Linked DNA regions of Homo sapiens. The protein of the gene in region 3 purifies or fractionates together with the protein of the main gene of each other region. This does not show direct contact. Each region holds a gene or a part of one and is shown on either strand. Other genes may lie near its edges.

Region 1 (3,545 bases), on a different chromosome or scaffold from region 3:
CCAAGTGTTCTCATTGTTCATTTCCCACCTATGAGTGACAACATGCAGTGTTTGGTTTTCTGTCCTTGCGATAGTTTGCTGAGTGATGGTTTCCAGCTTCATCCATGTCCCTACAAAGGACATGAATTCATCCTTTTTTATGGCTGCATAGTATTCCATGGTGTATATGTGCCACACTTTCTTAATCCAGTCTATCATTGATGGACATTTGGGTTGGTTCCAAGTCTTTGCTATTGTGAAAAACAGCAGCAATGGAGTTTCACTCTTGTTGCCCAGGCTGGAGTGCAGTGGCATGGTCTTGACTCACTGCAACCTCTGCCTCCCGGGTTCAAGCAAGTCTCCTGCCTCAGCCTTCCAAGTAAGTGGGATTACAAGCACCCGCCACCATGCCCAGCTAATTTTTGTATTTTTAGTAGAGATGGGGTTTCACCATGTTGGCCAGGTTGGTTTTGAACTCCTGACCTCAGCTGATCCACCCGTCTCGGCCCCCCAAAGTGCTGGGATTACAGGCGTGAGTCACCGTGCCTGGTCACATTTTTTTTTTTTAAAGGCAGTCTATGGCCTTATGTAGCTGAAGTCCATATGGGCTCTAGGCATAGCTTGATCCAGGGGCACAAGTGAAGTCCAGAGCATCTCTCTATCACTCTGCTGAACTCTGTTGGCTTCACTCTTAGACAGGTTCTCTCCGTGAGGCACTCAGCATGGGTCCTACTGCAGGCCCATATCACAGCCAAAACACAGCACCTCTTGCCCTGTGCGTGATGCTCACTGGGCCACCTTGGTCAGATGGCAGCTCCTGAGCCCATCACTGTTGCAAAGGTGACAGGAAGGCCTGGTGATGTGCGCACCCTGGAGCCAGGCTATGGGCCCGGTCACATTGAAACCATATGGGGCAAAGTGTGGGTGAGGAAAGTCAAGATGAGGTCACAGGGGAAGGGAGAATGGATTTTCGTAGGCCCAAGCAGCAGCTGTGCTGCAGGGACACGCAGCAGCACCATGTCCTGTGCAGAAGGGACCCTCCCTGGCCACTTTGCACAGGGGCATGGAACTGGCAGGAAGAAGACATGATGTGTTTTTGAAACATTTGAAGCCAGCTCACTTGGAATTCCAGCATCCAAGTCAGCTGGAAGAGGGGGAGTTACCCTTGGAGGCAGGCGGAATCGACCATTGGATAGCTCCAAGTGCTGACAAGGGCGGACACGGGAGCTGATTTCTGCCTGGTGGGAAAGGTGATGATTCCAGCTACTTTGGGAAGTGGTTGGTCAGCATGGATTATAGCCGAAGGCCCCAGCTTTGCCTTGTTCTAGCAGTTCCACTCCTGGGCAGCCCGAGAGAGGCCTTCCCAACCATGGGCAGATGTTCATCATAGTATTGTTTGCAGTAGTAAGAGGTCGGAGCCCACACCAAAGAGGATGGATCAATCACTAAACTCTAAATGAGTGATCTAAGCAGGGGTCAGCAAACTTTCTCTGTAAAGGGCTAGACAATGAATGTTTCAGGTGTTGCGGGACACACCATGCCTGGCACCACTATTCCACTAGTGCTGTGGAGCGGGAGACTGCTAGGGATGGTGTGTGAATGAATGGGAATGACTGTTCCATCCCACGTTTATTGACAAAAATCGCCTTTCAGAATAGGCAAATCCACAGGGACAGAAAGATTGCTGGGTGCAAGGGGCTGGCGGAGAGGGAGGTCTGAGAAGTGACTTTTTTTTTTTTTTTAAGACAGGATCTCACGCTGCCTCCCAGGCTGGAGTGCGGTGGAGTGATAATGGCTCACTGCAGCCTTGACCTCGTGGGCCCAAGTGATCCTTCCATCTCAGCCTCCCAAGTAGCTGAGACCATAGGTGTGCACCACCATGCCCAGCTAATTTTATTTTTCTAGAGACAAGGTCTCCCTATGTTGCTCAGGCTGTTCTCAAACTAGTGGGCTCAAGTGATCTCCCATCTTGGCCTCCCAAAGTACTGGGATTACAGGCATGAGCCATGGTGCCTGGCTGGGAGTGACTTCTTCTTGGATACAGTATCCATTTGGGATCATGAAAAAGCTCAGGAAGTAGATAGTGGTGATGGTTGCATAATATTGGAGGTATCCTAAATGCCACTGAATTGTGCACTTTAAAACAGGGAAGTTGGTAAATTTTATGTTGTTTATTTTACCACCACCACCACAACAAAAGATAAAGAAAACACAACAGGTGGTCAACACCCACAAGCTATAGCTTTCTGACCCCTGGGCAAGGGCTCTGTCTACAGATACAGACAGATCTCAGCAACATGTTGAACACAAGAAGCAAATTGCAGAAGGATGTGCAGCAGACATGCAGAGGGCGCTGACTGTGGTTGAATAAAAAGCCAGTCACCCTCCCTTCCCCTCCCTGAATTGAGACCCATTCGGCTATAATAGGATTGAACAGTTGGTGACTCCTTTAAAGAAATGACACAGCCAGGTGTGGTGGCTCATGCCGGCTTTGGGAGGCCAAGGCAGGAGGATCCCTTGAGCCTGGGAATTTGAGGCTTCAGTGAGCCATAATTGCACCACTGTACTCCAGCCTGGGTGACAGTGTGAGGTCCTGTCTCAAAAAAAAAAAAAGGGTCAGATGCGGTGGCTCCTGCCTGTAATTTCAGCACTTTGGGAGGCCGAGGCGGGTGGATCATGAGGTCAGGAGTTCAAGACCAGCCTGGCCAACATGATGAAACCCCATCTCTATTAAAAATACAAAAGTTAGCTGGGTGTGGTGGCGTGTGCCTGTAATCCCAGCTACTCAAGAAGCTGAGGCAGGAGAACCGCTTGAACCTGGGAGGCAGAAGTTGCAGTGAGCCAAGATCATGCCACTGCACTCCAGCCTGGGTGACAGAGCGAGACCATATATATATATATATGGCCTAAAGTTTACTGAGCAAATCCAGTGCTCAATTACATCTAACTTTTCCTGTCACTACCAATATAATTTTTTTTTTTTTTGGAGACGGAGTCTCACTCTATCACCCAGGCTGGAGTGCAGTGGTGCAATCTCACTGCAACTTCCGCCTCCAAGATTCAAGAGATCCTTCCGCCTCAGCCTCCCAAGTAACTGGGATTACAGGCATAAGTCACCATGCTGAGCTAATTTTGGTATTTTTAGGAGAGACACGGTTTCAACACGTTGGGCAGGCTGGTCTCGAACTCTTGACCTCAGGTGATCTGCCCACCTTGGTCTCCCAAAGTGTTGGGATTACAGGCATGAGCCGTTGTGCCACCCCCCAATATAATCTTAATCCAGCATCTTCATACATTTTATCACCATTACCACTTCTGTCTATATATGTTACATATATAGGAGAGATATATATATAGGTTTTATATATATAGGAAATGTGTATATATAGGTGTTATATATATAGGAGATGCATATATATGTTATATATATATTATATATATAAATATTTTTTATATTTATATTTTTGTATGTGTGTGTGTGTGTATATATATATATATATATACTTTTTTTTTTTTTTTTTTAGACAGAGTCTCACTGTGTTGCCCAGGCTGGAGTGCAGTGGCGT
Region 2 (3,545 bases), on a different chromosome or scaffold from region 3:
CTAGAGATTTCCTCTTCCTGTAATCCTCCAGCTCAGCCTGGGCTTCTTTGTACAGCTGTGACAGCTCGCTCACCTGTTTATTGAGTTCATCTATCATCCTATTCATGGCTTCTTTCATGTCCTCAGCTTCATCACTGGCTTCCTGTGTCATCTGACTTTTTAGTGTGTCTTTTAATTTCATGATTTCTTCTTGGGCTTCTTGGTATTTCTCAAACAAAAATGCTTTCTCCTTATTCATATTCTCAATAACAGAGCAATATGAACTTTTCATTTCCTCGTACTCTTCCACAGGTGGCTTAATCACTGTACCTTTCTCCCTCTCTACCAGTTTTTCCTCTAACTCTCTCACTTTCTCTTTATTTCTTTCACTTTCTTCTAATGCATTCTGCAGATCCTGCTTTAGCACATTTATTTCCTCTTCCGTGACCCTCAGCTCGTGGAAATGTGAATAATTATCCATGCTTTCAGGTGAGACAAGACCGAGTTTCATCTGCTTCTGCACACTAAGGACTTCTTTCATAGCCTCCTCGTATTTGCTCTGAGTTTCTTTAAGTTTCTGGCTGAGGTCAGAGCTGTTCTCTGAAATCTCAGTGTTGTTTAAGCATACCAGTTCTGCCCTTCGGGATTGGAGTTCGACCTGTAGCTGTTTTCTCTCTGCTTCAGAGCTCTCTAATCTCTTCTGTAGATCTTGCAAAATCTCTTGCAGTTGCTGAATTCTGACATCATTGTCAGTAGTGGATTTACCTAAAGAATGTATTAAGACAGATGGAGATGATTTGGAGTCTGGGGGAGAGGTTTCACCAGGTTTTCCCAGGGATGGGCCCAAGTCAGTTTGGGTGGAATGGTATGAGTCAAAGCTTAGGTCTGCTTCCGCCTCCTTGGGTGATTTGGCCTAGGAAAAAAAAGCAAGAATTAAATGATATCAAAGGTCAGGAGATTGAGACCATCCTGGCTAACACGGTGAAACCCCGTCTCTACTAAAAAAAAATACAAAAAATTAGCCGGGCGTGGTGGCGGGCGCCTGTGATCCCAGCTACTCGGGAGGCTGAGGCAAGAGAATGGCGTGAACCCGGGAGGCGGAGCTTGCAGTGAGCCGAGATCGCGCCACTGCACTCCAGCCTGGGCGACAGAGCAAGACTCCGTCTCAAAAAAAAAAAAAAAAAAAAAAAAAAAAAAAAAAAAAGATACCAAAGGCGTGGTTAGCTAAGCAAGCAACTAGAATGAGAGGAGTAAATCCGCAACTTTGGTACGGGAGAGTAGCATGATCACTTTGCCTGTGTATTCTCATGCCATGAAAAAAGACAGTCTGGGACATGAGTGGGACTAATGACACAAAGCTTGCTTTGGGTTCTATTGGGACAGACGATTTGTGTCACTTTGAAAACACTAAAATTGTTTTCTCTACAAAGCCTCCAATTCAAAAATTTCCTTTATTTCTTATATCATTCTACTTGCCAAGAGGGGTAATGGATATATAGTACAGCTATTTCTTCTTCTTATTTTTTGGTACAGCCATTTCTTATCAAGTACTTAAACCTGTTAAATGATCAACTTTACTAAATGGATAATATTTTATATATATATATATATATATATACATACACACATACATATATAATTTAAAACGTAAAATTTTAATATATATAAAATCAAAATATAAAATTATATATTATGCATCATTCTATGCATATAGTATATTTTATATAGAATTTTTTCTATAAATTTTGTTTTATTTATATAATTTATTAAACATATAGAATATTTAATACTGATCATACTATGTGTATAATTATTTATAATTTACCAGTTGAATAATTTACAGAAAGAGTTAATGAATAACACTCTCATGAAACAAATAATCTGAAACTATAAGATGCTTAAAGCTAATATTTAAAAAGAAACTAATGTACACATTTAAAACAAAATACATCTGACTACTGAAAAGACCAAGAGCTTGACTCTACAGAATAGTCCATGATAGCAATCTATTTATATACCTGTAATTTATCTTGTAACTCCTTATTGTGTAAGGTAAGGGAAGCAACTTTTGCTTGCAATAGAGAGAGAAGATCTTGTTGGTCAGCTTCAGAACTTATATCCAATAAGCTATCAGCACCTTGGGAAAGAGAAAGCCATTTAAAATATAAAACAATTAAACTCTTATTTCTCTAACCTGAGACAAATTCACTTCCTAGCCTAATCCAGTTCTTCTTCCTGGCCCTAATTATAAAACGCCCTAGCAGCTGGATGGGTGAACTAAAATTTTCATTTTATATAGAAAGGAAACTGGGGTTTCCTTACTGTGGTATTGCTAGCACAATACTAGATACATGTGTACACAAGGCAATCTGAAAATTGATGAATTTGGTCATATATTTCCTATTCATTTGCTTAAGTGTCATATCTTGGTTGTTTTTGGTTCTTCCCTGTGCCTTGTAAGTCTCAGTTATGTGAATCATTTTAGAAATGTCTCTGGAATCTGGTTTATTTCTTTCCCCCTACCACCATTACTGTAGTTAAGACTTTATCACCTTACTTGGAAACTCTGCAAACAGCTTCCCAACAAATCTCTGCCTCTCTCTTCTTCCCAGTGAAACTGTAGCCTGCACAGCAACGTCAGACCAGTCTTCCTAAAACATACTTTGATTGGGTCATTCCTCTGGGTCAAGTGCTTTAATTGTTTTCCCTCCAAAAATAATCTCCAAATTCCTTTATCTGGGTTCAGGCCTCTATGATTTGGCTCCAGTCTACTTCTTCAGGTTCATGACACTGCTACTTTTCTAGATTCCTATTTTCCTCAGATTCATGGTTCCCATCACACCCTCTACATTCTCAACACACGGCTGATTCTTTCATTCTTTATCCACAGGATTGCCCTGCAGAATCTCTCTGCCTAGAGAATTCTTAAGCATCATGTCAAACTTTGCCCAGTCCTTAAAGCATTCAAAGACCACCCTAGCATGAAACTATCTTCTCTTCTCTGAATCCCACAGTAATCCCTGTTGGTAAACCACAACTTTCGGACATCCTACTGATTATCATGCTGAAATTGCAACTTAAGGAGTGCTATTCAAGGTGCTCACAGAGATAGCAAACTTCCTCCAGAATGCAATGCAATGTACTGCTTCCTTCATCTAGAAAGTCCTACAAAAGATATGTCAGCTGAACAAAACAATGTGCTTAGTGAAGTAACTGTGTGAATTTCTGGTCCAAACTTAATATTATTATTACTTTTTGAGATGGAGTCTTGCTCTGTCACCCAAGCTGGAGTGCAGTGGCACGATCTCGGCTCACTGCAACCTCTGCCTCCCAGATTCAAGCAATTCTCCTGCGTCAGCTTCCCAAGTAGCTGGGACTACAGGCATGCTCAATAATTAACTATTACATAAAATCTCAATAATTTTATGTAATAGCTAATTTTTGTATTTTTAGTAGAGACGGGGTTTTGCCACATTGGCCAGGCTGGTCTCGAACTCCTGACCTCAGGTGATCTGCCCACCTCGGCCTCCCAAAGTGCTGGGATTACAGGTGTGGGCCACCACACC
Region 3 (3,978 bases):
GAAAGGTGGAGAGAAAATTGGGATGGAAGTCACCCAGCTGGCTTTCCTCTGAATCTAGCTCCCACCAACAATCTCAATTCATTCTAGGGGAGGTCTTGGGCAAGCTCCCACACCCCTCTCCCGCACTGAAGTATCCTGAGGCACTAGGTCTCTCTCGATTCACGAAGGACAGTCAAGAGGCAGGGGTGGGGTGGGGTGGGGAAGAGGCAATGCTCCAGAATTGAGAAACCATTAGCACAGCAGGCAGCTGCTCTCCAAGAAGGAAGGAGACCCTGAGCAAGTTCCCAGCTGCAGAACTGGGTGGTCTATGGATCAGGGAGGTTCACAGCAGGTCCCATGCCTACTGATCTTGGCTTCCTACATAGAGCAAGAGGCATGAGGCCAGGGAGTATCTTCTGATGTAATAAGAGCTGGAATCCCTGCCTAAATCCACTTAAGTTTGAAAACTGAAAGCTAGTTTATCTCATTCTGGAATCAAATGAGATCTCTCTCTTACTCTCTCTCTCTCATGCACATCCACACACACACCCCACAGTGACCTGGGTCAAGAGCCTGATGGGAACTCTGAACTTCAATCTCAGTTTCTCAGTCTCTGGGCCACCCCAGTCCCCACGACCCAGTGTCTCCACCCCCAAGAGGCACGAAGCACAAGCCACCAGCAGCTATTTTCCAGCTAAGCCCCTGACAAAGCCTGGGTCCAACAGCCTCAAGCCTGGAGCCTCACCGGGCCCTCACACTTTGCAGAAAGAGAAAGAAAAGGCAAGCCAGGAAGTACATGATTGCCCAATAGCTGTAACCTGGCAGCAGGCAACTGGGGACTGTGCCAGGCGATAGCAGGAAAAACATACTCGGTCCTATTGATGGGGCCATAATCTACCCCTTTCTCCAACATCCACTCTCCTTCACCAATGAAATGACTTCTTGAATTTCAAACCAGCTACTGGCTGCAAAAGCAAACACAATCTGGGGAAGTAACTGCTGATGTAGCCAATAGGGCAAACCATACACACACACACACACACACACACACACCCCCTCACAACCAGCACCCAACTGGATTTGGCAAAACATAATAATGCCTAAACCACCTGCTCTAAAAGGCTTGTTAAAATATACATTATATGGCCCTATCCTAGACCTTCAGAATAAATTACTCTGGGTGTGGAACCAGAGAATGTAAGTATTTTAAACAAACATCCCAGGTGATCCTTACGTACTTTAAACTCAAGTTTGAGAACCAGTTAACCACTGCTAACTAACTTTTGACAAATTTGCCATCCTTTCTGGGCTGCCCTTTCCAGAAATTCTCACTGCAAGTTCTTTTTTTGTTTGTTTCGTTTTGTTTTGTTTTGTTTTGTTTTTGAGACGGAGTCTCGCTCTGTTGCCCAGGCTGGAGTGCAGTGGCACGATCTCGGCTCACTGCAAGCTCCGCCTCCTGGGTTCAGGCCATTCTCCTGCCTCAGCCTCCCGAGTAGCTGGGACTACAGGCGTCCGCCACCACGCCCGGCTAATTTTTTGTATTTTTAGTAGAGACGGGGTTTCACTGTGTTAGCCAGGATGGTCTCGATCTCCTGACCTCACGATCCGCCCGCCTCGGCCTCCCACAGTGCTGGGATTACAGGCGTGAGCCACCGCGCCCGGCTATCTCACCGCAAGTTCTATGTGTTAGGAGCAATATAAGTTCATATTTCGATCTTATTCAATCCTCACAGCAGCTTGTGAGGCAGGCTGTGTTTTCTACAGTTCTGCAAAAGGGGAAACAAAGTACAGAGATGAAGGAAATTGCCCAAGGTCACACAGACTGCTAGACTCCTACGCTCGCACCAAAGTAACAGGGCATGTTCTTGAAAAGGCCCCCAAACCGAAAGGTGTCTCTGGTACAGTGGACCTGGTTTCACATTTTCCAGAATCAAAAACTCATCATAATGAAATTTCAACTAAATTTTAGAGCTGGAAAGGACCTAAATGTCAAAACCCACCCCGTGCCAGAGCTCCAGTGTGCTGGGTTGCCAGATTCTTGGAGTTGGGGAAATCCACACCTCATCCATTCATTCAACCACACACATATTTACCAAATACCTATTAAGATGGGGTGCCTTCTACTTCCTCTTTCCATTGCACTCTATTGAACAGTCTTTTCCCAGCAAAACTCAACTTAAGTCCCATCCATCTTATCCCAGGACACGACACGATTCGTTTTTCCGCGCCAACTATCCATAGCCTCCCTTTTATTTGGCAATCATCACAGCAGTACGGTGTTGCTGGCTGGGGTTCGCAAGTTTGCGACCACTGTCCCTGCAATCACGGACTGACACATCTGCCAGGGACACCCCGCAGTAGCCCCGCAAGCTCAGCGCGGTAAAGACCACGCTGGCCTCTCCGCCGAGCAACGAGCGAGCCGCCGCCCGCCCTCCTCCGCTCCCTGCCGGCGGCCAAGCCGGAGCCCGCCCCGCGCCGCGAGAGGGAGCCGCACTCACCAGGCGCCCCGAGCTCTCCCGCGCCTTCTTCACCTTCCCGTAGGTGCCTTTGCCCAGGGTCTCCAGGAACTCGTAGCGGTGCCGCAGGTTGTGCTTGTGGTGGTGCCGCTTCACCGCCTGCTTCTTCATTAGGGGCTTGGGCGACTTGATCAGCCCTTCCGCCAGCGGCCGGGCTAGCTCTGCGGCCGAGGGAGTGGGGCCGGAGCGCCGCGCGAAAACCAGCGACTCCATGGCGAGCAGGAGGTGAGCAAGGGCGGCAGGGGAATCAGTAGGCTGTGCGGGGAGGGCTGAAGCGCGGGGCACAGGTCCCGCACCAGGACGGGGAGCCACAGCAGTACCAGAGCGCGCAGTAAAGCACAGCATTCCAAGTTGTTATAAACGCCCTGAGCCCGAGGCCCTGGACACGCCCCCCGGCGCCCATTGGCCTGCTCGACGGCGGCGCGTGACCACGGCCGTCCACATTGGCTCTCCGGGGCTCCAGGCCCCGCCTCCTCCCCCTCGGCGTGGCCGGGAAAGGTGTCAATGGAACCCGCCCACCAGGAATGGGGACTAGGGGATTCCAGCGAAGGCCGCCTGAGGCCCAGAAGCTTACTCTGAGGGCCCTTGGAGCTGCACTTGCCTCTGAGTGGCGCTTGGTCCTGCTTAATGCCCTGTTGTTTTATTGTACTCTGTTCTCAGTTGGCAAGGGGCGATCTGAGGGCACTAAAGGTCACCAAAGTATTTCTTCATCCTGAGTAATTTGCTTGTCCCAAGCCAAAATCTATAATTGCTTGACCACTTCATTGAGTCCATAAAGGAGAAAGGGAGCTGGGATGGAACAGAGGCAGAATCCAGCCTAGTGGGAGGGTTAGTGCAGAGCTGTCCTATGGTTCGAGTTCACTTGTCTTCAGTTAGATCAACCTTACTTGGATATTGGAATCCAATGGCCCTGGAAACTTCTTCCTTCTTCCTCAAAGAGGGCTTCTTAGGCGAATCGCTTGAGGTCCAGGAGTTCAAGACCAACCTAGCCAACATGACGAAATCCCATCTCCACTAAAGATACAAAATTAGCCGGGCGTGGTGGTGCGCGCTTGTAATCCCAGCTACTCTGGAGGCTGAGGCAGAAGAATCGCTTGAACCCAGGAGGCAGAGGTTTCAGTGAATCAAGATGGCGCCACTGCACTCCAGCCTGGGCAACAAAGTGAGGCTCCGTTTCAAAAAAAAAGAGGGCTTCTAAGGTTTAGTAGATTCCCTCAACCACTTAGTGGAATTTATTTAGGATGTGTCGGCTGGAGGTGGAGAGAACCCGAAGGGATACATATTTATTTAACATTTTTACATGCCGACTATCTAACCTGTGTCCCTAAGTCTGAAAATGGTTGCTCCACCCAAGGTTTTCTTGTGATTTTGGTGCCAGGAGCACTGGTGGTAGGTTATGAGGTTTGACTTGAGACGGAGTCTCCCTCTGTCGCCCAGGCTGGAGTGCAGTGGTGCGATCTCTGCTCACTGCAAGCTCCGCCTC
Region 4 (3,545 bases), on a different chromosome or scaffold from region 3:
AGTGTAGGCCTCTAAGTACCCAAGTGAAAGGAAGTGTCCATCCTCAAAATCAATCAATTGCTAAAAATGATGAAGCTTAGTGAGAAAGGCACGTGGAAAGCTGAGACAGACACAAAGCTAGGCCTCTGGCACCAAACAGCCAAGCTGTGAATGCAAGGAAAAGTTCTGGAAGGAAATTAAAAGTGCTACTCCAGTGAACACACAAATGATAACAAAGCAAAACAGGCCGGGAGCAGTGGCTCACACCTGCACTTTCAGAGGCTGAGGTGGGTGGATCACCTGAGGTCAGGAGTTCGAGACCAGCCTGGCCAACATGGTGAAACCCCATCTCCACTAAAAATACAAAAGTTAGCTGGGCGTGGTGGTGGGCGCCTGTAATCCCAGCTACTCGGGAGGCTGAGGCAAGGAGAACTGCTTGAACCCGGGAGGCGGAGGTTGCAGTGAGCTGAGATCGCACCATTGTACTCTAGCCTGGGTGACAGAGCAAGACTCTGTCTCAAAAAAAAAAAAAGGAAAGAAAGCAAAACAGCCTTACTGCTGTGCTGCTGAAAAGGAGAAAGTTTTAGTGGTCTGTACAGAAAAATCAAACCAGTCACACATTCCCTTAAGCCAAAGCCTAATCCAAAACAAGGTTCTAACTCTTTTCAATCCTATGAAGGCTAAGGGAGTTAAGGAAGCTACGAAAGAAAAGCTGGAAGCTAGCAGAGGTTGGTTCATGAGGTTGAAGGAAAGAAGCCATCTCCATAACATCAAAGTGCAAGGTGAAGCAGCAAGTGCTGATGCAGAAGGTGCAGAAACTTATCTAGAAGATGTAGTGAAGACAGTTCACGAAGGTAACAACACTAAATAACAGATTTAAGTTTGACAAAACAGCCTTCTATTGGAAGAAGATGCCATCAAGGACTTTCACAGCTAGAGAGAAGTCAGTGGCTGCACTCAAAGGTTCAAAAAGGCTGACTTTCTTGTTAGGGGGTAATGCAGCTGGTGACTTCCAGTTGAAGCCAATGCTCATTTAACATTCCAAAATCCCAGGTCCCTTAAAAATTATGTTAAATCTACTCTGTCTGTGTTCTGTAACTGCAACAACAAAACCTGGAAAGACAGCACATCAATTTACAGCATAACTTACTAAATATTTTAAGCCCACTGTTCAGACCTACTGCTCAGAAAAAAGATTCAACATATTACTGCTCATTGACAACGCACCTAGTCACGTAAGAGCTCTGACGAAAATGCAAATAAAAATGAATGCTGTTTCCAGTCTGCTAACCCAACATCCATTCTGCAGCCCATGGATCAAGGAGTCATTTCAACTTTTAAATCTTATTTAAGAAACACATTTTGGCCAGGCACGGAGCCAAATCTCAACACTTTGGGAGGCTGCGGTGAGAGGATTACTTGAGTCCAAGAGTTTGAGACAAGACCTGGCAACACAGCAAGAAACCATCTCTAAAAAAAAGAAAATTAATTGGGTGTGGTGATCTACTCAGGAGGGTGAGGCAGGAGGATCACTTGAGCCGGGGCGGGGAGTCAAGGTTACAGTGAGCTATGACCACTGCACACCAGCCTGGGCATAAATACAGATTCCTTTGATGAATCTGGGCAAAGTAAACTGAAAATCTTCTGGAAAGGATTCAGCAGTCTAAATACCATTAAGAACATTCACAACTCATAGGAAGTCAAAATATCAACATGAACAGGGCTTTGGAAGAGGTTGATTCCAACCCTCATGGATGACTTTGAGGGGTTTAAGAATTCACTGGAGGAAGTCACTGCAAGTGGGGTAAAAACTGCAAGAGAACTAGAATTAGAAGTGGAGGATGGCGATATGACTGAATTGCTGCAATCTCATGATCAAACATTAAAGGGAGGGGGGTTGCTTCTTATGGATGAGCAAAGAAAGTGATTTCTGGAGATGGAATCTACTTCTGCTGAAGATGCTTTTAACACTGTTGAAATGACAACAAAGGATTTAGAATATTGCATAAACTTGGTGGATAAAATTGCGGCAAATTCTGAGAAGACTGACTCCAGTTTTGAAAGAAGTTCTACTGTGGGTAAAATACTATCAAACGGCAGCACATGCTACAGAGAAATTTTTTGTCGAAGGAAGCAACTGATGCAGCAACTTCACTGCTGTCACATTTTCAGAAACTGCCACAGTACCCATCACCCCAATCAGTCAGTAGCCATCAATATCAAGACCCTCCACCAACAAAAAGATGACTCACTGAAGATTCAGGGGATCATTAGCACTTTTTAGCAAAAGCTTTTTTTAATTAAGTTATGTGCTTTTTTTTAGACATAAAGCTACTGCACACTTAATAGACTATGGAATAATGTAAACATAACTTTTATATGCACCAGGAAACCAAACAATTTGGGACTCGTCTTATTGCAGTGGTCGGAACTGAACCAAAGCAAGCCTGTACTTACTAGCAGTTTAGCTTGCTCTGGAAGAGTGATCTGTTCCCTTTTTCCATCTGGATACCGCAACATCAGCTGTGCTTTTGGTCCTAAAGGAAGGGTTTAAAAAAAAAAAAAAAACGGGATACAGGAGTTTAAGACAGAATATTAGTTTAAATAAATATGTAAATAAATACAGCCATTCAGCAATTACTCAAGTGTTTTGCTGGAGTGCAGTGGCGTGATCTCAGCTCACTGCAACCTCCGCCTCCCTGGTTCAAGCCACTCTCCTGCCTCAGCCTCCCAAGTAGCTGGGACTATAGGCACGTGCCACCACACCTGGCTAAGTTTTGTATTTTTAGTAGAGACAGGGTTTTGCCATGTTGGCGAGGCTGGTCTTGGAACTCCTAACCTCAGTGATCCACCACGCCCGGCCCCAATATCTAAGTTTGAAGTAAAGTATGTCTAAATGTAACTTACCATTTACATCTATCCCCTCCACTACTCCATCTGCTTTTTCAGGTGGCATCTCCAGTATCTCTGAATCCACAGCTGGCAATCCTTGGTGGTTTGTGGCTGTTCCAGGATCAGTTCTGACTGGTGGCTCAGTCAGCGGCCTTCTATTCTCCTCTTTTCTATGCCCCAAATCTTTGTGGGGAGACTTTCTGGACTTGGCAAGATTCTCTACCTCTTCTTCTTCATCAGAGCCACAAACGGATATGAACTCCTCACTGCCAGAAAAAAGTTCAGATTCAGATTCTTCATCTGAGCGGCTATCCTGTTTTGTCTGTGTTGAATCAAAATGTGTTTCTTGTAAGGAGGCTCTGATGGCAGCTTCTAGCTGGCTGTCTTCACTTGCATCTATAAGGCTCTCCTGTGAGATGGAGTCATAAAACACAGGAAAAAGAACAAGTTAAACCAAAAAACAAGTCAAACGGCATAAGAAATATAATAGCTTGCCATTCATTATTATGTTCTGCTGACTGTATCCCTTCTACTTTAAGAGCAAGGACTGTGTCTTACACAGCCAAATTGGAATGGAGATATATATATGTGTGTGTATATACACACACACACGTTTTTGTTGTTTTGTTTTGTTTTGTTTTTGAGATGGAGTCTCACTCTTGTTGCCCAGGCTG

Evidence for each region. The genes of interacting proteins can lie anywhere in the genome.
Region 1: the proteins of NUAK2 (region 3) and PPP1R12C purify together in Homo sapiens (affinity purification with mass spectrometry; 2 studies listed by BioGRID and IntAct, with this or other methods). This does not show direct contact.
Region 2: the proteins of NUAK2 (region 3) and RAI14 purify together in Homo sapiens (affinity purification with mass spectrometry; 2 studies listed by BioGRID and IntAct, with this or other methods). This does not show direct contact.
Region 4: the proteins of NUAK2 (region 3) and UBXN7 purify together in Homo sapiens (affinity purification with mass spectrometry; 2 studies listed by BioGRID and IntAct, with this or other methods). This does not show direct contact.

Annotation. Positions count from the first base shown.
Region 1 is NC_000019.10:55,104,118-55,107,662, reverse strand, and holds part of PPP1R12C (protein phosphatase 1 regulatory subunit 12C), read left to right. Parts: intron 1-3,545. UniProt on the Homo sapiens protein: Regulates myosin phosphatase activity.
Region 2 is NC_000005.10:34,820,303-34,823,847, reverse strand, and holds part of RAI14 (ankycorbin), read right to left. Parts: intron 2,117-3,545; coding exon 1,998-2,116; intron 893-1,997; coding exon 1-892. UniProt on the Homo sapiens protein: Plays a role in actin regulation at the ectoplasmic specialization, a type of cell junction specific to testis. Important for establishment of sperm polarity and normal spermatid adhesion.
Region 3 is NC_000001.11:205,318,921-205,322,898, forward strand, and holds the start of NUAK2 (NUAK family SNF1-like kinase 2), read right to left. Parts: upstream 2,826-3,978; 5' UTR 2,709-2,825; coding exon 2,478-2,708; intron 1-2,477. UniProt on the Homo sapiens protein: Stress-activated kinase involved in tolerance to glucose starvation. Induces cell-cell detachment by increasing F-actin conversion to G-actin. Expression is induced by CD95 or TNF-alpha, via NF-kappa-B.
Region 4 is NC_000003.12:196,359,408-196,362,952, forward strand, and holds part of UBXN7 (UBX domain-containing protein 7), read right to left. Parts: intron 3,281-3,545; coding exon 2,887-3,280; intron 2,517-2,886; coding exon 2,437-2,516; intron 1-2,436. UniProt on the Homo sapiens protein: Ubiquitin-binding adapter that links a subset of NEDD8-associated cullin ring ligases (CRLs) to the segregase VCP/p97, to regulate turnover of their ubiquitination substrates.